3 linked regions of the Homo sapiens genome follow. The protein of the gene in region 3 interacts with the protein of the main gene of each other region in a pairwise test. Each region holds a gene or a part of one and is shown on either strand. Other genes may lie near its edges.

Evidence for each region.
Region 1: the proteins of MYOM1 (region 3) and KRTAP5-7 interact in binary tests that used the Homo sapiens proteins (3 or more experiments, as listed by UniProt).
Region 2: the proteins of MYOM1 (region 3) and DYSF interact in binary tests that used the Homo sapiens proteins (3 or more experiments, as listed by UniProt).

The regions. Positions count from the first base shown.
Region 1 is NC_000011.10:71,522,932-71,529,186, reverse strand, and holds KRTAP5-7 (keratin-associated protein 5-7), read right to left. Parts: upstream 1,921-6,255; 5' UTR 1,887-1,920; coding exon 1,389-1,886; 3' UTR 518-1,388; downstream 1-517. UniProt on the Homo sapiens protein: In the hair cortex, hair keratin intermediate filaments are embedded in an interfilamentous matrix, consisting of hair keratin-associated protein (KRTAP), which are essential for the formation of a rigid and resistant hair shaft through their extensive disulfide bond cross-linking with abundant cysteine residues of hair keratins.
Region 2 is NC_000002.12:71,567,690-71,574,715, reverse strand, and holds part of DYSF (dysferlin), read right to left. Parts: intron 6,766-7,026; coding exon 6,634-6,765; intron 6,545-6,633; coding exon 6,378-6,544; intron 4,897-6,377; coding exon 4,782-4,896; intron 4,488-4,781; coding exon 4,382-4,487; intron 4,118-4,381; coding exon 3,975-4,117; intron 519-3,974; coding exon 345-518; intron 1-344. UniProt on the Homo sapiens protein: Key calcium ion sensor involved in the Ca(2+)-triggered synaptic vesicle-plasma membrane fusion.
Region 3 is NC_000018.10:3,083,952-3,090,977, forward strand, and holds part of MYOM1 (myomesin-1), read right to left. Parts: intron 6,852-7,026; coding exon 6,707-6,851; intron 5,646-6,706; coding exon 5,586-5,645; intron 5,291-5,585; coding exon 5,223-5,290; intron 2,201-5,222; coding exon 2,087-2,200; intron 1,182-2,086; coding exon 1,094-1,181; intron 77-1,093; coding exon 38-76; intron 1-37. UniProt on the Homo sapiens protein: Major component of the vertebrate myofibrillar M band. Binds myosin, titin, and light meromyosin. This binding is dose dependent.

The DNA.
Region 1 (6,255 bases), on a different chromosome or scaffold from region 3:
ACCAACCTAATTATGCATTTGCTTTTTCCATACAGCATTCACAGCAGAATAACGACACCACTGCTGCCACCATGACTACTAAAAATAGCTTAGGAATTTTATTTTTGTGTTCTTTCTATGCTTAGGACATATCCCACCAATAAATTGCTGTGTTTCCAAATAACTTGAAATAATTCAACTCTATTAATATTGCCTTTTTTTTTTTTTGACGGAGTCTTGCTCTGTCGCCCAGAATGGAGTGCAGTGGCGCGACCTCGACTCATCACAACCTCCCCCTCCCAGGTTGAAGCCATTCTCCTCCCTCAGCCTCCGAAGTAGCCAGGATTACAGACACGTGCCACCACACTCAGCTAATTTTTATATTTTTAGTAGAGACAGGGTTTCACCATGTTGGCCAGTCAGGTCGCAAACTCCTAACCTCAAGTGATCCGCCTGCCTCGGCCTCCCAAAGTGCTGGGATTATAGGCGTGAGCCACTACGCCCGGCCCTTTCAAAATTCTTAAAAAGCAATATTGGCTTGGTGCTAGGAGTGTTTATTTACAGAGGCAACAGGCTGTGTAACAACAAAGACAATCAGAGTAAGTTGGTTACAAAAACTTCCCAAAGGAAGATGGCAGAGGCCTGGACCAGGGAAAGGAGGCAAGTCTGAACTCCCCAGAGTTTTCAGCAGCCTCTTCTGCTTCTGTGGCCCTGGCCTGAGGAACAGTCCTGTCTCCATCAGATCAATAGCTGGAAAGACCTAGGAAGAGAGGGGTTCTGAGAAAAGAGGGGTCAGCCAGGAAGGAGATGAGAGGCAGAGGAGACAGCCAGCCCCATCCTAGCACCTTCCAGCAACATCAGCATCAGACCCACGCAGTCCGAAACACAACAAGAACAAGAAAACAATAGCCATAGCCATAGTAATGACCCCGAACAACAGAGAAATCAGCAAGATATGTGTTTCAGTTTGTCGGCATGGTATTTTTATTAGTTTGCAACTTTTCATTTAAGATAAAGCAGAGTGTTGGACAGGCAAAGCCACTCCAAGGAAGCCTCTTAAACGCCCACCTTGTTGCAGGTGGGACACTCATGCCCAGCTGCTCCAGCTGGAAAAGACAGGACTTCAAGTGGGTTCAGGAGCTCAGGCCTCTGAATACACAAGCAAAGGCAAGGCTAGCGGGTGAGGGGTGATTCAGCCGCAGTTGCAGTTGACTTGGGAAGAGAATTTGTTAGGAGGGAATGGACATTAATTAGGGTGGACTCTCCTTAGGAAAAGGCAGGCAGATATGGCTTCATCTTATAGTGAGGAATGGACCCTGAGCAGTGGTTTGGGGCTCAACGATGAAGGACAGGTCACAGCTTCGGAAAATGGGGTTAGCAGGACTCACATGAGACCTGAGTCCAGAGCCTCAGATCTTACACTGGCAGCACACGGGGACACAGCAGCTAGACTGGGAGCAGCAGGGATTGCAGCAACTGGACTGGCAGCAGGATGACCCACAGCCTGAGGAACAGCAGCAGGGCTTACAGCAGCTGGACTGGCAGCAGCAGGGCTTACAGCAGCTGGACTGGCAGCAGGATGACCCACAGCCTGAGGAGCAGCAGCAGGGCTTATAGCAGCTGCACTGGGAGCAGCCACAAGAACCACAGCCCCCCTTAGAACCCCCACAAGAGCCACAGCCCCCCTTGGAGCCCCCACAGGAGCCACAGCCTCCCTTGGAGCCCCCACAGGAGCCACAGCTGGAGCAGGAACAGGCTGGCACACAGCAGCACACGGGCTTGCAGCAGCAGACGGGCACACAGCAGCTGGAGCCACATCCCCCACAGCCAGAGCCACAGCCCCCACAGCCGGAGCCACAGCCCCCACAGCCGGAGCCACAGCCTTCGGAACAGCCACAGCAGCCCATGGTTCTGGTGGATTGAGGGTGGAGCAGGTAGAGGAGCAGGTGAGAGGGAGGTGCAGGTGTGGAGCCCCCTGAGCCCGGGCTCTTTATATACCTGTCCAGAGGTCAGGCACAATACAGGGTCGCTTCCTTGTGACTGTTTACGCTATTTTTCCAGAGCTCTATTTTTTTTCCTCTTTGCTAGTGACTTCCTCCTGGCTCAGTTGAGCATCTACTTTCTTTGTTTACTAAATTTGTCTTTTTCCCTATTTGTTTTGGCCCCTACAATTGAAACCTCAGCTCCAGGCTGTCTGGTGCTTCCCGCAAAGCTCCAGGGTGCTGGTCACCTGCTCTCTGCTGACCACATGTGACCAATGGGCAACAGCCTTTGCCCACGTGCTCTCATCTTTCCTGTGTTGACTCCCCCAGGAATATTAATTTCACATTTTTAGATTTCAAAATTATCCATGGTCTTTATATTTTACTCATGCCATTCTCAGTTTTGCATTGCTCTAAAGAAATACTTGAAGCTGGGTAATTTATAAAGGAAAGGTTAGAATGGCTCATGGTTCTGCAGGCTGCACAAGCATGGCACCCACCTCTGCTCAGCTTCTGGGCAGGCCCTCAGGGAGCTTTTCCTCATGGTGGAAGGTGAAGCAGGAGCAGGCTCACCACATCGTGAGAGTGGGAGCAAGGGGTGAGGAGGGGCCACACACTTGCGAACAACCAGATCTGAGTGAACACACTCATCACCAAGGAGATGGCGCTAAGCCAGTCATGAGGGATCCGCCCCCATGACCTAAACACCTCCTTGCAGGCCCCTCCTTCAACACTGGGGATTACATTTCGACAAGAGATTTGGAGGGGACATCCCAACTGTATCATTATCCCCTTGACCCCTCAAATCTCATGTCCTTACATTGCAGAATAGAATCATCTCTTCCCAACAGTCCTCTCAATGTCTTGACTCATTCCAACATCAAGTCCAAAGTCCCAAGTCCAAGTCCCTTCCACCAATGAACTTGTGAAAATCAAAACACATTATTTACTTTGAAGATACATGAGGGTGGAGGCATTGGGTAAACATTCCCATTCCAAAAGGGAGAAATCAGCCCAAAGGAAGGGGCTACAGACCCCATGCATGTCTGAAATCCAGCAGGGCAGCCATTAAATCTTAAAGCTCCAAAATAATGTCCTTGGACTCCCAGTCCCACATCCAGGGTACACTGGAGTGAGGGGTGGGCTCCTAAGGCCTTGGGGAACTCCACCCTTGTGGCTTTGCAAGGTTCGCACCCTGCAGCTGCTCTCATGGGTTGGAGTTGTGTGCCTGCAGCTTCTCCATGCTCAAGATGTAAGCTGCCAGTGGCTCTACCATTCTGGGGCCTGGAGGATGGTGTCCTCCTCCCCACAGCTCAATTAAGCAATGCCCCAGTGGGGACTCTGTGTGGGCCTCCTACTCCACATTTCCCCTCTACACTGCCCTAGTATATATCCTCTGTGCGGGCTCTGCCCCTGCAGCAGGCTTCTGCCTGAGTGCCCAGGCTTTCTCATAAATCCTCTGCAATCTAGGTAGAGGATCCCAAGCCTCCTTCACTCTTGTATTCTACGCACCTACAGGCTTAACACCACATGGGAGCTACCAAGGCTTATGGCTTGCACCCTCTGAAGCCAGAGTTACATTTGGGGTCTTTTGAGCTGAGGCTGGAGCTGGAGTAGCCTATGTGTGGGGAGCAGTGCTCCAAGGCTATGCAGGGCAGTGAGGGCCTGGGGTGAGCCCCTGAAACCATGGTGTCCTCCTAGACCTCTAGGTCAGTGATGAGAGGGGCTGTCTCAAACACTTTTGAAATGCATTTGAAGTCTTTTCCAATTGTGTTGGCTATTAGCACTTGGGTTTTTTTGTTTGTTTTTTGAGTCATGCTAATATCTCTAGCAGGTGGTTGCTCTATAGCCTGCTTGGATTCCTCTCCTGATAATGCTTTTTCATTCTCTGCCACATGGCCATGCTGCAAAGTTTCCAAACTTTTACACTTTGATTCCCTTTTAAATATAAATTCCAACTTTAATTCATTTATGTGCTCTTGCATGTGAGAATACGATGTTAGATTCAGTCAGGCCACAGCTTGAATGTTTGCTGCTTAGAAATTTCTTCCACTAGATATCCTAAGTCATCACTCCTAAGTAGAAATTTTCAGAGCCCCCTAGGGCATGAAGCACAATATGGTCAAGCTCTCTGCCAAGGTGTAACACAAGTGATCTTTGTTTTAGTTTTCAGTAAGTTCCTCATTTCCATCTGAGACCTCATCAGGCTGGACTTCATTGTTCTTATCACTTTAATTATTTTGGACACAACCATTTAACCAGTCTCAAAGGAGTTCCCACCTTTTCCTCATCTTTCTGTCTTCTTCTGAGCCCTCCAAAAATCTTCCAATCTCTGGCCATTACCCAGTTCCAAAGTCACCTCCACATTTTCAGGTGACTTTATAGCAACATACCATTCCTGGTACAGTTTTCTGTATTTTTTGTGTTGCCATAAAGAAATATCTGAGGCTGGGTAATTTATAAATAAAAAAGGTTTAATTGGCTCCTGGTTCTGCTAGTTGTACAAGCATGGCACCGACATCTGCTCAGCTTCTGGTGAGGCCCTCAGGGAGCTTTTATTCATGGTAGAAGGCAAAGCAGGAGCAGGCATGCCACATGGTGACAGCTGAGAAAGAGAGAGCTGGTGGAGGGACAGAGGCCACACATTTTTTTTTTGAGATGGAGTTTTGCTCTTGTTACTCAGGCTGGAGTACAATGGCATGATCTCGGCTCACCGCAACCTCCGCTTCCCAGGTTCAAGTGATTCTCCTGCCTCAGCCTCCCGAATAGCTGGGAGTACAGGCATGCACCACCACACCTGGCTAATTTTGTATTTTTAGTAGAGACAGGGTTTCTCCCTGTTGGTCAGGCTGGTCTCGAACTCCTGACCTCAGGTGATCTGCCCACCTCAGCCTCCCAAAGTGTTGAGATGACATGCATGAGCCACCATGCCTGGTCAGTGCCACATATTTTTAAACAACCAGATCTTGCTCGAACTTATTCATCACCAAGGAGATGGTGCTAAACCATTCATGAAAAATCTACACCCATGATCCAAACACCTCCCAGCAGGCCCCACCAACATAAGATTTGGAGGAAGCATGCAAACTATATTACTGGGGATCACTTTTTTTTTTTTAGATGAAGTCTTCCTCTGTCACCTGGGCTGGATTGCAGTGACGTGACCACAGCTTACTGCACCTTCAAACTTCTGGGCTTAAGGAATCTTCCCGCCTTGGCCTCCTAGGTAGCTGGGAATATAGGCATGTATCACCATACCCAGCTAACTTTTAAACTTTTTGTAGAGATGGGGCCTTGCCATGTTGCTCTGGCTGGTCTCAAACTCCTGGCCTCCAGTGATCCTCCTACCTTGGCCTCCCAAAGTGCTGGGATTGCAGGTGTGAGCCACTGCACCCAGACAATATCCTTTCCTTTCCTATCCAAATAAGAATAATCTATCCTCATCTTGTTGTTTGTGGGGAATCTTTTCCCCTACTCAATTATTTCTGAAAATCTCACAAGTCTCTCTGCTGTTGTTTTCTCTCTTCCCCAGGCAGAGTGTTCACTCCTCTTAGGCTGCTTACTTCAGCTGCTCAGCTGGGTTCCCTGCTCAGTTGTACTCCATGTGGGGAGAGAGGTTCCTTTATGCCATGGTCTGCATGTGTCCCCCAAAATTCATGTATTAGAAACTTCATCCCCAATGCAAGAGTGTTGGGAGGTGGGGCCTAACAAAAGGTACTTGGAATGAATTAGTGCTGCTCCAAGAAGGACTTGAGAGAGGGCATTCACCCCTTTCTGTTCTTCTGCCATGTGAGGACAACATATTCATGCTCTCTTGCCCTTCTGCCTTCCAATATGTGAAGACACAGTAAGAAGGCCCACACCAGATATCAGCACCTTGATCTTGGACTTCCCAGCCTTCAGGACTCTGAGAAAGTACATTTCTGTTCTTTATCAATTACCCAGGTCAATTATTATCTTATAGCAGCAATAATGGACTGAGGCACTCTAGTCACAAAACCATTGCTTATATGAGGCTACTTTCTTTGTTTAAGGGATGCATGCTAAACCCTGAGGAGAGCATAAGAGGGGCACATTACTGAAAAGAAACTGAAGTCTGCTTACCAGATGTCCCTGCTCCTCAAATCTCTTGGCCGTGCGATTGGGCATTGTTTCACCAGTGTACTCACCTAAGAACACAGCAGCATGTCACCAATGTACTCGCCCAAGAATACAGCAGCATGTCCTCAGCATTCTCACCCAAGAATACAGCAACATGTCACCAGCGTACTCGCCCAAGAATACAGCAACATGT
Region 2 (7,026 bases), on a different chromosome or scaffold from region 3:
CTCCTCCCATGGGCCTCCTCGCCCATCTTCACACCAGCCAGCCAGGCACAGGCCAGCCAGACGGCCAAGGCCATCTTCCCCTCTGCTTTCATCTTGACACCTCAAAGTAGTAGCAGCAAGTGTTTCAGTGCCAAGGAAGGAGCTTTTTCATTTTAGAAGAACACCCAGACTGGGGCTGCTTTCCCCACATGCCACCCCACAGGTACTGACGCCAGGATGACCAGCCAGCGTTCCATCCAAAAGTCCTAACCTGGGGTCCCTGTGCCTCTCCCACATCAGCCCGAACAGCCCTGGGAAACCAAGATATACCCTACCCAAGCCAGGACAAGTGCAGCCCCACATACCAGGGCCCCCTCAAGGGCAAACACAGCTGCAGGCCCCGTCTTCTCCAGTGGCTCCATGCGACGGCGCCAGCGGCGGCGGCGGAAGGCATCTGTCTTGCGGTACTCGAGGTGGAACTTCCAGCCAAAAAGAGAGGCGTACTCCCAGCCCTCGCCCTCCGCCTCCGCCTGCCTGTGCTGCACAAGAGAAGGGGCAGACTCAGAGGCCGGTGGGAAGGCTGGGGGGAGTTCTGTGCTCGGCTCCACCTTTGCCTTCCTGTCTTCCATGACAACTCCCCACCAGCTCCCACACTAGTGCCCTCCAGGTGGGAAAACCTGGGAGGGCCACCTAGAGGAGAGGGGCTTTCTGCAGCCACAGGAACCCCAGGTCAGAAAATCAGGAGGGGAGGCCAGGCATGGTGGCTCATGTCTGTAATCCCAGCTACCAGGGAGGCTGAGGCAGGAGAATTGCTTGAACCTGGGAGGTGGAGGTTGCAGTGAGCCGAGATTGCGCCACTGCACTCAAGCCTGGGTGACAGAATGAGACTCCATCTCAAAAGGAAAAGAAAAAAAGAAAAAAGAAAAAGAAAAATCAGGAGGGGAGAGGAGGCTCCATGGGCTGCGGGAAGAACCAAACAGCCAGAAAGGAAGGTAGGCTGACGCAGTGACGAAAACACTGGGCTTTTAACTTGCTTATTTGTTTGAATTCTGGGTGGATTTCATGAATCCAAAGTTTTCTTGTCATTTCCTTTTTCATCTTCACATCCTGTAGTGGGTCTGCAGCTCAGAGGTAAAAGGAAGATCCTATTTCCCAACCACAGCCAATTTCACCCCTGGGAGCTAGACCCAACTCAGCTATGGAGGCACCCCTGTACCTCGTTCATGGGGTCCCTTTCCTGGGCCTGAAGGGAGTCCCGGGAGCCCCCTTGCCATTCAGCTCCTGGGAGAGGGTGACCTGGCACTGTTGTCAGACACCACCTCAGGTCTGGGCCAGGAGCACAGTGACAAGGGCCAGTCCTGGAGGCCAGCTGTGCCACTCTCCAGGAAGGATGCTGGCTGTGGGGTGGTGGGCAAGGCACATGAGCCTGGGCAGGCTTTGCCTCTGTCTGCTGGGTGCCCCTTCAGGGAGAAAGTTGAATCTGTCTGGTTCACAGCACCAGGAACAGCTGGTTGTCCAAAAGCCTTGCCCCTCCCTGGAGCCAGCAAGAGTCCTCTCTAGGTTCTCTGCCCCCAAGGAGAAAGGAAGGAACCTAGGTCATGCCACAGGCTACTCCTGGACTAAGGGAGGTCTGGTTCTTGAGCCAAAATTCAAATGTGTGTTTAGGAAGGAAGATCATAGACCAAGAAGGTCCAGGACAGGCGGGCACAGAGGCTGTGCAGTGCACAGGCCCCTGTGTGACCCCGGAGCAAGTGCATGTGCTTGCGTGTGCTCATCCATGTGCACGATGGGCCTGACAGTATCCCATGGCATCTGTGCTCAACTGTGGGCATGTGTGCTTGCATTGCATGAATGCCAACGGGGCCCACCCCAGCCCCCTCACCAGCCAATGTACACGTGTGGCGCACCCATCCCCAGCTGCCATCAGCATCGACAGCTCCCAGCTCCCAGAAGCCACCTGCTCCAGGGAACCCCCATGCTAAAGGAAACCCCCTCACTGAAGAGATAGGTATGTGCCCCAGCTCACCCCAGCAACCCCAAGCCTAGACAGATGGCTGAGAGGATACAAAGCCCAGCCCTGCCTCCAGGTGAGGATTCTGTGGTGTTCCGAGTTGTGAACTTCCCCAGGCCACAGCTCAGGCCACAGCTGACCTGCCTGAAGCTGCATCCTTGCTCCTCACACTCCCGAGGGCACTGCCCCAATAATGTGCAGCCAAATCTACGTCTTAGCTTCTGCCTCCAGGAAACCCAGCCTAAGACAAAGTCCATGGGTGTCTTTCCATCTTCCAGGTTGGTGTGTGAACTTTGCATGTGACCTTCTGTAATCATGGGCATCTGAGTGTGTCTGTCTATAAGCATCTGTGGGTGTGCTGGGTGTGATCTGTGCTGGGTGTGATCTGTGGGTGTGCTGGGTGTGATTTCTGTGTGCTGGGTGTGATCTGTGGGTGTGCTAGGTGTGATCTGTGCTGGTTGTGATCTGTGGGTGTGCTAGGTGTGATCTGTGCATGTGCTGGGTGTGATCTGTGCTGGGTGTGCTGGATGTAATCTGTGCTGGGTGTGCTGGGTGTGATCCATGCTGGGTGTGATCTGTGGGTGTGCTGGGTGTGATCTGTGCTGGGTATGATCTGTGGGTGTGCTGGGTATGATCTGTGGGTGTGCTGGGTGTGATCTGTGTGTGTGCTGGGTGTGATCTGTGGGTGTGCTAGGTGTAATGTGTGTGTGCTGAGTGTGATCTGTGCTGGGTGTGCTGGATGTGATCCATGCTCGGTGTGATCTGTGGGTGTGCTGGGTGTGATCTGTGTGTGATCTGTGCATGTGCTGGGTGTGATCTGTGTGTGTGCTGGGTGTGAGCTGTGTGTGCTGGGTGTGATCTGTGTGTGGTGGGTGTGATCTGTGCATGTGCTGGGTGTGATGTGTGTGTGCTGGGTGTGAGCTGTGTGTGCTGGGTGTGATCTGTGTGTGTGCTGGGTGTGATCTGTGTGTGCTGACTGTGATCTGTGTGTGTGCTGGGTGTGATCTGTGTGTGCTGACTGTGATCTGTGCATGTGCTGGGTGTGATCTGTGGGTGTGCTGGGTGTGATCTGTGTGTGATCTCTGCATGTGCTGGGTGTGATCTGTGTGTGTGCTGGGTGTGAGCTGTGTGTGCTGGGTGTGATCTGTGTGTGGTGGGTGTGATCTGTGCGTGTGCTGGGTGTGATGTGTGTGTGCTGGGTGTGAGCTGTGTGTGGTGGGTGTGATCTGTGCGTGCTGGGTGTGATGTGTGTGTGCTGGGTGTGATCTGTGTGTGTGCTGGGTGTGATCTGTGTGTGCTGACTGTGATCTGTGTGTGCTGGGTGTGATCTGTGTGTGCTGACTGTGATCTGTGCATGTGCTGGGTGTGATCTGTGGGTGTGCTGGGTGTGAGCTGTGCGTGTGCTGGGTGTGCTAGGTGTAATCTGTGTGTGCTAGGTGTGAACTGTGGGTGTGCTGCATGTGAACTGTGGGTGTGTTGGGTGTGATCTGTGTGTGCTGAGTGTGAACTGTGGGTGTGTTGGGTGTGATCTGTGTGTGTGTGCTGGGTGTGATCTTTGGGTGTGCTGGGTGTGATCTGTGCATGCGCTGGGTGTGATCTGTGGGTGTGATCTGTGTGCTGGGTGTGATCTGTGTGTGTGCTGGGTGTAATCTGTGTGCTGGGTGTGATCTGTGTGTGTGCTGGGTGTAATCTGTGTGTGTGCTGAGTGTGATCTGTGGGTGTTCCCAGTGTGATCTGTGTGCTGGGTGTGATCTGTGTGTATGCTGGGTGTGATCTTTGGGTATGCTGGGTGTGATCTGTGTGTATGCTGGGTGTGATCTTTGGGTATGCTGGGTGTGATCTGTGAGCACCTCCAGTGAGTCCCAGGTGTCTGTGCATGCTGTGTGCACACATGCATGTGTCTGTGGGCATGCAGGTCTGCATCTGTGCCTACTGGCCACCTGTGACCACAGGCCTCACTCCCACCCACCACCTGCTGGCTCACCCTTTTCAGTGCTTCCATTTGGCTGAGATCCCTCCTGCGCAGGCGCACCCAGCGCCGCCGTCGGTGTGTGTAGTACATCTTCTCAGCAGGGACCCAGTGCTTCGGCTTCCGCTCCGGGGGGATGGTGATGCTATACTCCCAGCCTGGGGGAGGGGGAACCGGTCACTCATTGCTTGGCAGTTCCCCCCATCTCTCCTGGGACCATCTCTGAATTTGGGGCATGGTCACAGACTCTTGAGCGGCCACTGACTCTCGGTCCTAATTTGCAGCTTGGAGTGGGGGGTGCCTTCAAGAAGCGTCCCTGGGTGAAATAGCCCAGTGAAGGGCCCTGGCATTCAGTCGTCCCCACCAGCATGGCTTGAGAGCTTGCCGGGGATGGGGCTCGCCAGGTTCCACATGCTGCCCACCTTGCTCATCGACAGCCCGGTTGAGGTCTGTGGACCATTCCTCATCTTCCCACTTCCAGCCCAGTGGGCACTCAATGTCATCCTTGGGAAGCACCTTCTCCCCGTTCTAAGGACAAAACCGAACAGGCAAGCAATGAGAGGAGACAGACAGATGTGAGCAGGGAGGCAGAAAAGATGCAACTTGACAACATACGTCCTCCAAGTCCCAGACAGAAGGGCAGAGCCCCAGAGTCAGTGTCCTGCCACCACTGCACCCCACACTTTCCCTTTGGAAATCAAAGCATGAAGTCTCCGGAGGTAAGAGGGGGCAAAGAGAAACATGCCCCACCTGTCCCTGAGCACCAGGTGCCTCCAGAGACCAAATGTCTAGACCCCACCTGCCCCTGAGTGCCTGCTTTACCACATCGGTGTAGTTGTCACTCATGTAGATCCACTGGCCTCCGGGAAGCCGGGTCTGGTTCTCAAACACCTCTTCCACGAAGCTCAGGTGACCGGCGTCCATGTCATGGAGCAGACTGTGGAGGAGGGCTGGTCAGAGTCTCTGCTGCTCTGCTGGAGAGGCCCCCATCCATCTACCACCTCCTGGAGAGCACCCCTGCGTATGTCAGCCTCACCCCAACCAACAATGAGAGACATGGGGGGTGGGGAGGGAAGGGTGCAAGAGACCAAGGCAGACAGTGAAAAGGAGACCTAGGGACACTCCGAGATAATCGGGGACAAAAGAGCACATCACCCAAGATAAAGAGAAAAGGGGGCCAACTGAAGACAGCAAAAGGAGGATGGGCAGTCGAGGCTTGATGGATAGTTGTAAAAATATAAAGTTTTATCAAGTTGTGCTCATAAGATTTGAGTGCTTGACTGTATAATATGTTATACTTCAATTTTTTTAAGTAAAAAAAAGTTAAACACCACAGAGTTGAATGCCAACCAAACAGGAAAAGGAGAGGAGAGAGAGGCAAAGGCGGCAATAGACATGGAGAAGGACCACGTGGATCTGAGAGGGACTGACAGAGAAAGGACCACTCAGGGGATGTGTGAGCAGCCCAGACACGAGAAGGGTTCACGTGCAGAGGAGGTGATGGGCTTGTCCTGGGTGTCTTTGAGGATGGGGCCACACCCAGTGGGCACCACACAGAACGAAGGCTTAAGAATAAAGGCCTGGGCCAGGCGCGGTGGCTCAAGCCTGTAATCCCAGCACTTTGGGAGGCCGAGGCGGGTGGATCACCAGGTCAGGAGATCGAGACCATCCTGGCTAACATGGTGAAACCTCGTCTCTACTAAAATACAAAATAAAATTAGCTGGGCGTAGTGGCAGGCAGCTGTAGTCCCAGCTACTCAGGAGGCTGAGGCCGGAGAATGGCGTGAACCCGGGAGGTGGAGGTTGCAGTGAGCCGAGATCGCGCCACTGCACTCCAGCCTGGGCGACCGAGCGAGACTCCGTCTCAAAAAAAAAAAAGAGAGAGAATAAAGGCCTGGCCAGGCGTGGTGACTCAAGCCTGTAACCCCAGCACTTTGGGAGTTCAAGGAGGGAGAATCACTTGAGCCCAGGAGTTCAAGACCAGCCTGGGCAACACAGTGAGACCCTGTCTCTACAAAAAATTTAAAAATTAGCCAGGCATGATGGCGCACGCCTGTGGTCCCAGCTACTCAGAAGGCAGGAGCAGGAGGATCACCTGAGGCCAGGAGGTTGAGGCTGCAATGAGCTGCGATCATGCTACTGCACTCCAGCCTCCAAACAGAGTGAGACTCTGTCTCAAAAAAAAAAAAAAATTTTTTTAATGAAAAGAATAAAGGACTGTCTGACCATCCAAGCCCTTCTGGAAAGGACTGCTGCCTGGCAAGCCTCAGTCCTGGGAGAGTTCAGCGGAAGTTCCTATGACCAGCGCAGGAGCAAGCAGAGGGATCAACAGACCCCAGCCTGCCTCCAAAAGGAGGGTGCAGTCCATGGTGGGCAGCCTGGCCTGGCTCTCCCCAGCCCTCCCTGCCCACGACTCACGTCTTCTCCGGACACACGAACCAATCTCCAGCCCAGGTCCAGCCGGCCGAGGGGCGGAAGCTGTCCTTGGGTAGCTTGATCTTGCCCGTGACGTCAGAAAACTTGGGGTAGGTGAGGCCCGTTGTGCCCCAGTTCCCAACAAGGGCCAACTTAGTCTCGTTCTCATACTGGAGGGCCAGGAAGAATGAGGCGTGAGCAGGGGGCCAAGGCAGCTCCAGGTAGTGGGAGGCAGAGGTGGGGGCTGGCAGGTACTCACGGTTTCAGCAAAGACAGACAGCTTCCCCTCAGCAAACTGGTTGAACTCCTTCTCATCCACTGAGAGCCCAAACCACAGCTTGACCCGTATCTGCACTGGCATCCGGGCGCCAGGCACCTTCTCCATCGGATACTGGGTACCAGAGAAGGACAGAAACCCACAGTCCCCTTCAGGATCCGGATGTCCCAGTGAGAGGCTGGGGAGGAGGAGTCCTCCAAGCCTGGGTAGAGCAGGCTGACACCCTCACTGGGAGTGTCCCCTGTGGGAGCGCTTACCAGAATTGCATAGAAGGGGAGTGTGCAATTAAGAAACGTCCACCCCACCCCCTACCCCTCACCAAGATTCCTCCCCATCAAAGGCAAAGGCTACATCATTCCCTCCTAGGAGCGCTCT
Region 3 (7,026 bases):
CATAAAGCATTGTTGTGGTGCGAAATGTTTGACTCACCTATTTTTTTGCATACTTCCATCATCAGTTCCTTAAAGGCTGTGGAGAGAGATTCAGAGCCAAAACTTTAGCATAAAAATTCTCAATGTAAGGTTAAATCTCAAATTCTTAGCTCTCAAAAATTCCCTTTCTGGTTGAAAGGAAATGGAAACAAGGTGAATTTGTCGACCCACTGATAATGAGTATTCTTTGAGGAAATAGTTCAATTTTATCAGGTTTTAAAAGATCCCTGCTTATTTTGATTTTTTTTCCCTTGAATTCTTTGTCACAATCGCCATATTTACATTCTAGAGAAAGGGCCACAAGAGATTTCTAGGAAGGTTCTTGGCTTTGGGATTCTCTTTCTTCTTAATTCCCAGGAAGCCTTAGTTTACATTAGAGGACATTTTCTTAGCCGTGTCATCGATTCATAATGAATTAACCATGTAGGTCTCCTGGCCTTCATCAGCCTGATAATGCTTTTTGCCAATAAACACATTTAGCCCCACTTCCACCCAAAGTAGGAAGGTGAAATTAGTCAGACTTCTGCTGTTTGTTAGCAATATTGTTTTAAAAATCTTGTTCAGGAACAAAATTGTAAGTTTGGAGTTCCCATGTAGATTTTCATCATCATGATATATTTGTCCTTAGTAGTCTCTGAAAAATGGAATTTGCTTTCTTGCTGTGCTAAAAACTGCAAGGCTTCACATTTCATATATAAATCTTGCTTGCTACCTTTAGAGTGGACTATTTTTTGTCATGCTTCTCACAGAAGTTTTTGAGCCTGGAACATTTTTATAGAGTTGAAACAAAAATGATTTAAATTGAAAACAGATCCCTTGTGGACTCTGGACTATAAATTCTCTAAGGATCAAAAATACACTTCTGATTTCGAAGATGACTAGAAGTGAGGTATTTTTGAATAAAACAGTTCACTCTGTTGGAATTTCAATTAAGCCAAAATCTGTGGACAAAAAAAATCAGCATGATTTCAATCGTCAGCTCGGCCTCAATCATCATTCTGGTAAGCTGTATGCAGAAACACACAAGACAGACCCCAGCAGTTGGTGGACTGACCTTCATCCACAAGCTTCAGTCTGCTCTTATCTTTTCCTCGGTCATCTTTCAGGATAACTTCATAAATCCCAGCATCTTTCTTGGAAAACTAAGGGGGAATAGATATACCACATTGCACCTTTCGTAGCCCCAGGGCACGGTATCTGTGATTTTTTTTTTTCTTCTGCTTCTTCTGCTGCTGCTGCTTTTTTTTTTTTTTTTTTTTTTTTTTTTTTTTTTTTTTTTTTTGAGACAAGGGTCTCACTCTATCAGCCAGGCTGGAGTGCAGATGTGTGATTATAGCTCACTGTATCCTTGAACGCCTGGCCTCAAGCCTTGACCTACCAAAAGCACTGGGATTACAGGTGTGAGCCACTGCACCTCACCTGCTATCTGCATTTTTAAAGGCCCTTGATTTACAGAATTGCCATCAAAACACTCTTTGAACAAGCATCTAACTTGTGAGTGGTGAACCGTTCACAGATGCAGAGATGCACCTCTCCATAATAATTTGACCAGCGAGCTAGCAGTCCTGACTTTTTACCTTCCAAGGCTGTAATTGATATGAGGCTTAATGTCCTTACTTTTTACTCTGCCTTCATTTATTAAAAACTAGTGATCACTAGTTTTATAGTGATATATTTAAATGCTGTGCTCTTTTAGACAAGAAGTAGATAAAAATCTATCCTTAAATGAATACCATGTCTGATGTCTCTGTACTTTTAGGACCACGAGGCTTAAGCACAAATGAAGAATGATCCACTTCACTGCCCATATATGGATAAAAGCAACTCAGAAAAGCAAGAGTTGTGGCATTCAGCTCATACTGGTTTGCTACCTAACAAATCCACACACATCACAAGGTTAGAGAAGCTTTTGTGTTCCTACAGCAGTTGGAAGTAAGCTAATATAAATCCCCTGGTCATGAAAGGAATACAGAATCTAGTTACTGTTTTGGGGTAAGATAGAGGGTAGAGAGCTAATATATTACATTTTACATTTATAATCGCCTACCTCTGTTATAAGCAGGGTACATATACCATCCTTAAAGTCATGCTTTTCATCCACTGATATCTCCCTCTCATCTTTGTACCACACAATATGAGTCTCCTTCTTAATATTTGCCACCTAGGAGAAAAACCATAATTACTTTTCTTAAAATAAGAAAGTGTACTCTTGTGAAGTTGAATAGTTCTTAATGCAGCAAGATATAAAAGAAAAAGCACTGAACGTGGAGTGAGAAGACACAGATTTCTAAAGGAATGAATTGAAAACTATTTTAATTGAGAAAAGAGTTTAGAATCAAGTGGACACCAATGAATAAACCTAAATCAATAGCATCTCTATTTCCAGCAGTGAAAATTGACTCTAAAATCATGTGGTAGGAAAGAAAAGAGAGAATAGATACATTCATACTGACATACAAACTTAAATGAAAATAGAAGTCACAAAACCAAAGGGAGAAAAATCCCATCAGATTAAAATACAGGCTGTGTTACAAAAACAAATGGCTTTATTAAAGGAACAGAATGAGTAAGCGCCAATCTATATCTAAAAGTTTAATGAAAGATAAATGAAGCATTGCAAATATATGTGGAGGGGAGGTATGCTAAGTAAATTAATTACTTAGCAATTTCGAGGAGACTCACTTAGATACACTAATCTTCTCATCATATCATCTATTTCAAATGGACTAAACAACTGCATATGGTTAAAGGGATCTTGAGTTTCATCTACAATGCTTGAATTTTTTTTACAAAGGAGAATATACTCATGTATTTCTTGTATAATTCAAATTGTATGAAAAAGTAAAGACTTCCTACAAATCAAGAAAACCGTCTCAAAGACCCCACTGAATAATGGGTGAAAACTACATACCATTCCCCAAAGAGAAAATACAACCATAAAACCAACAGACAAAGACAATGTTGTCTCATTATACGTGACAATATACAGGTTTTAAAATGTGAAACAATTTCAGCTAATAAATAAACATAGGAACCACCCTGGCAACTGTAGTGAAACCACTACACACAATCATTCTTTATGACCCTGGAAACTGGTTCCTGAATTGTAGAAAGTGTGTTACCAGCTGACATTGCTTACGATAAAAATGACCTCGATTGGAAAGCTGTGTCTGGACCCAGAGGACTAGAAATGCACTCCGCAGCTTTGGGCTTTGCTGAGTACATTGCTCATGAAATTTGGACACATCCCTTGTGTGGATCCCAGAAGCTCTGTTTAGGCAGTTGTTAGAAAAGATACTAGTTCCTCAGGGCATGAAGTTTTTTTGGGCTTTTTTTTTTTTTAAAGCCGTGGTGACTTCCTGCACCTGCCCAAAGTGGATCTTGTCTCCTTGCATCTGAGCTTTCTGTTGTCCGGGATGGCAAAGGTCATAGCTCCACATGTGGACTCCTGAGGGAGAGGAAGGTCCCAGTGTGCAAGCTAGGGTTCCTCCTACGTTCTTTTTTTTTTTTTTTTTTTGAGACAGAGTCTCACTCTATCACCCAGGCTGGAGTGCAGTGGCATGATCTCGGCTCACTGCAACCTCAGCCTCCCGGGTTCAAGTGATTCTCCTGCCTCAGCCTGCCAACTAGCTGGAACCACAGGTGCCTGCCACCATGCCCAGCTAATTTTTGTATTTTTAGTAGAGACGGGGTTTCACCATGTTGGCCAGGCTGGTCTTGAAGTCCTGACCTCAAGTGATCTGCCTGCTTTGGCCTCCCAAAGTGCTGGGATTACAGGCATGAGCCACCGCTCCCTGCCCCTCCTACTTTTTATTTATTTATTTTTTTTTTTGAGTAGACTAGCGCCAAGCAAGACCCACGATACTCCAGTGAGTCTGAATGATTCGCTGCGCATACTCCATGAACTGTAATGCGACACGTGAGTGGCTAAATTTACAGGAATTGCCACAGTAACGGAACAAAGAGCTATGCGAAGACAGAGGAAGCGGGAGGCCTTCTAGAGATGACTGAGCTGGGCCTGGGAAAGGATTTTGTCAGAGAAGCTGAAAGAACGTCATTCCAGGCATTGGAACGACAGCATAACAGAACTGTGTGAATATTCACAATCCATTTCCAGACTGCCCTTGGTTGCTCAGAATCTGGGTATGGGGCTGATTGTCCTGAGGAAGGCCATCACAGGACACCAGAGCTCCTCTGGTGCAGAGGGAAACAGCAAGCGCAGAAGGCGAGGGATGTGTGGGCTTTTGAAAAAGGATAGCTTATAGGGAGGGGCCACGCAAATGAAGAAGTGAGTGGGACAGCAAGACGGAGCAGCTGGGATGAGAGAGAAGGTGAGGGCTTCAGCTGCTGCCAGAGAAAGAGTTTTTCAAGCAGCGTTGCCATTTCCTGTGAGGCTAAAACCTAGAACTGATTTTCCTTATATGTATTTCTGATAGACTGCTGTTTCTTTGAGTTTATCACATCTAGTAGACACTGGGGCACTTGGGTTCTGGCTTTTATCATGACAATTGTGAAATCCAGACCAAATGCCACACCTATGCTTCCACCTGTCCTTGTCAGCCAGCAGGACCTTCACGCTCCAACCTCACCCACCGGTTCCTTACCCAAAACATTTCTGATGACTCAGCTACACACCACATGCTAAAGTACAAACTTGTTTAGAATGCTGTATAGAATTTTTTTTTCCTGAATCTTTCCAAAGTCCTAATAAGACAATTGGTTGTGAGCTGCCAACTCTTTTCCACATGTCTCCCTTGGAGTCAGTGGCACAGCTGGGGAATACCCAGGGGTATTGTTGCACCAGCCTCACAATTTACATGGCAAGGTCCACGAAACATTGCAGCTGGAGTGATTCTGGAATAGGTCTATGACTTAGAATACAGATTTGGCTTAAAACAAAAACGTGAGAGTCTTTGGAGATTACTAATTAGATAAAAGTCTAGGGTGTTACTAACTAGATCATGAGTAGTGACTAGGAATGATCACCTTGCCTTGTCATATTTTATGTCATTTTATTTTAAATCTTTCTTATCAACAAATGGTTACAGTAACATTGAACAGTAAATATGTGTCCCACTTATCATTTTGGCTCAGATGGAAGAGATGAAAAATTGAGCTTCCTCTTCTCTACATTCTATTTTATTTCCCTTGAATCAAATATTAAAAATTTATCTACCTCTTACCTTGCATTTCAATAGTACATTACATTCACCAGTCACTTCCCAGCTCAAATACTCAACAAAGTGAGGACCTATAAAATTTTAATGACATTAGCAATTACTCTATTAATCACAAATGCAAAATCAAAGCTCACACTTAAGTCCTAAGGTGATTTACATCTGAAGTCAGATTTTTAAAATTCTAGATTTAGCTTTTAAATATTTTAATGTCTACATATTTAACAGTAAATATTTTTAATTATTTTAATTTACTAGGCATTATTAACATAATCAATAATATTCATTTTAATTTGTTATGGAAATAACCTTGGAATCTTTTGTACAAAAAAATTAAAAATTTTCTCTTTATCCACGGCCTATTTTTACCTTGTTTCCTGATCCATTCTTGCCGCTGGAATTCAGCTTCTTTCTGGAGCTTTTTGAAAACTACAAATTGAAAAACAAGGAAGTGTGAAATTGAGTTGGGTGGTATAAATGCACATGTCAGCCACTGCACTAAGTGATTTATATTCATTATTGTAACACTCATACATTGTGACAACCCTGCTCATTTTTTATCTTTATAGATGAAGAAATAGGCTTAGGAAGGTTAAATAAATTGTACAAGGTCATAAAGCTAGGAAACAGTGACATAATATTGGATGTTGCAAATACAGAGATCTGGCCGGCCTTTCCATTGCCTTCGTAACTGCCACATTTTAAATCTGGGTGGTAGTAAGTGAGCAGCTGATTTACTACAATCCAGTTACAATGTATGATTAGTAGATTCGGCAGGCACTACTTTTGCATATTTTTCTTCTCAATTTTAGTAATTTACAGTAAGTACACGTGGCAAAACAGTCTCATGGTTTGTTTCTGAGACACATACAGTCTTTGTTGTATTGCAATCTCCCTCACTGGAGAATTTTAGCAATAAACATTTGTTTATATATGAAAGTATTTAAACGCAGTCTTGCCTGTGAGCTAGGAATAAATTTGGTGTTCCTTTAAATTCACTTTCATTTCCATGAAATAAAATACCATGTAAAGTATTAACTGAAAACTGTATTTTTTTTTTTTTTTTTTTTGAGACAGGGTCTCACTCTGTCCCCCAGGCTGGAGTGCAGTGGTGCGATCTTGGCTCACTGCAATCTCTGCTTCCCGGGTTCAAATGATTCTCATGCCTCAGCCTCCCAAGTAGCTGGGACTACAGGTGCACACCACCATGCCTGGCTAATTTTTGTATTTTTAATAGAGGCGGGGTTTCACCATGTTGGCCAGGCTGGTCTTAAACTCTTGACCTTAGGTGATCCACCCGCCTCGGCCTCTCAAAGTGCTGGGATTATAGGCATGAGCCACCGCGCCCAGCTGAAAATTGTATTTTGAACATTAGAAGTCAATTAAGAAAAAATTCCTACTACCTTTCAAATAACAACTTTTGTGCCATGGGGTACTTAGATTGAAGGGAGTAGCAAAGCCTGCTGGTTAATGTTCCACGGAATTCTTACCATCTCCAACGAGAACAACAGTAGAATGGTTAGTTGCTTTTCCATCTTGAAGCTGGAAAGTGTACGTTCCCTCATCCTCATCCTGTAGCTTTTCCATGAACATTTCGATGATGCCAGTGTTTCGGTCAATATGCATTTTATATTTCTTCAGTGTGAAAAGAAAATGACAGAGAAATCACTGAGGCATATATTTTACTTGGAATGACAACAAGCTTGATGAAATAAAAATAAACCCCAAAGGCTAGATGCAGTGCCTGTTCATGCCTGTAATCCCAGTACTTTGGGAGGTCGAGGTGGGAGGATTACTTGAGGCCAGAAGT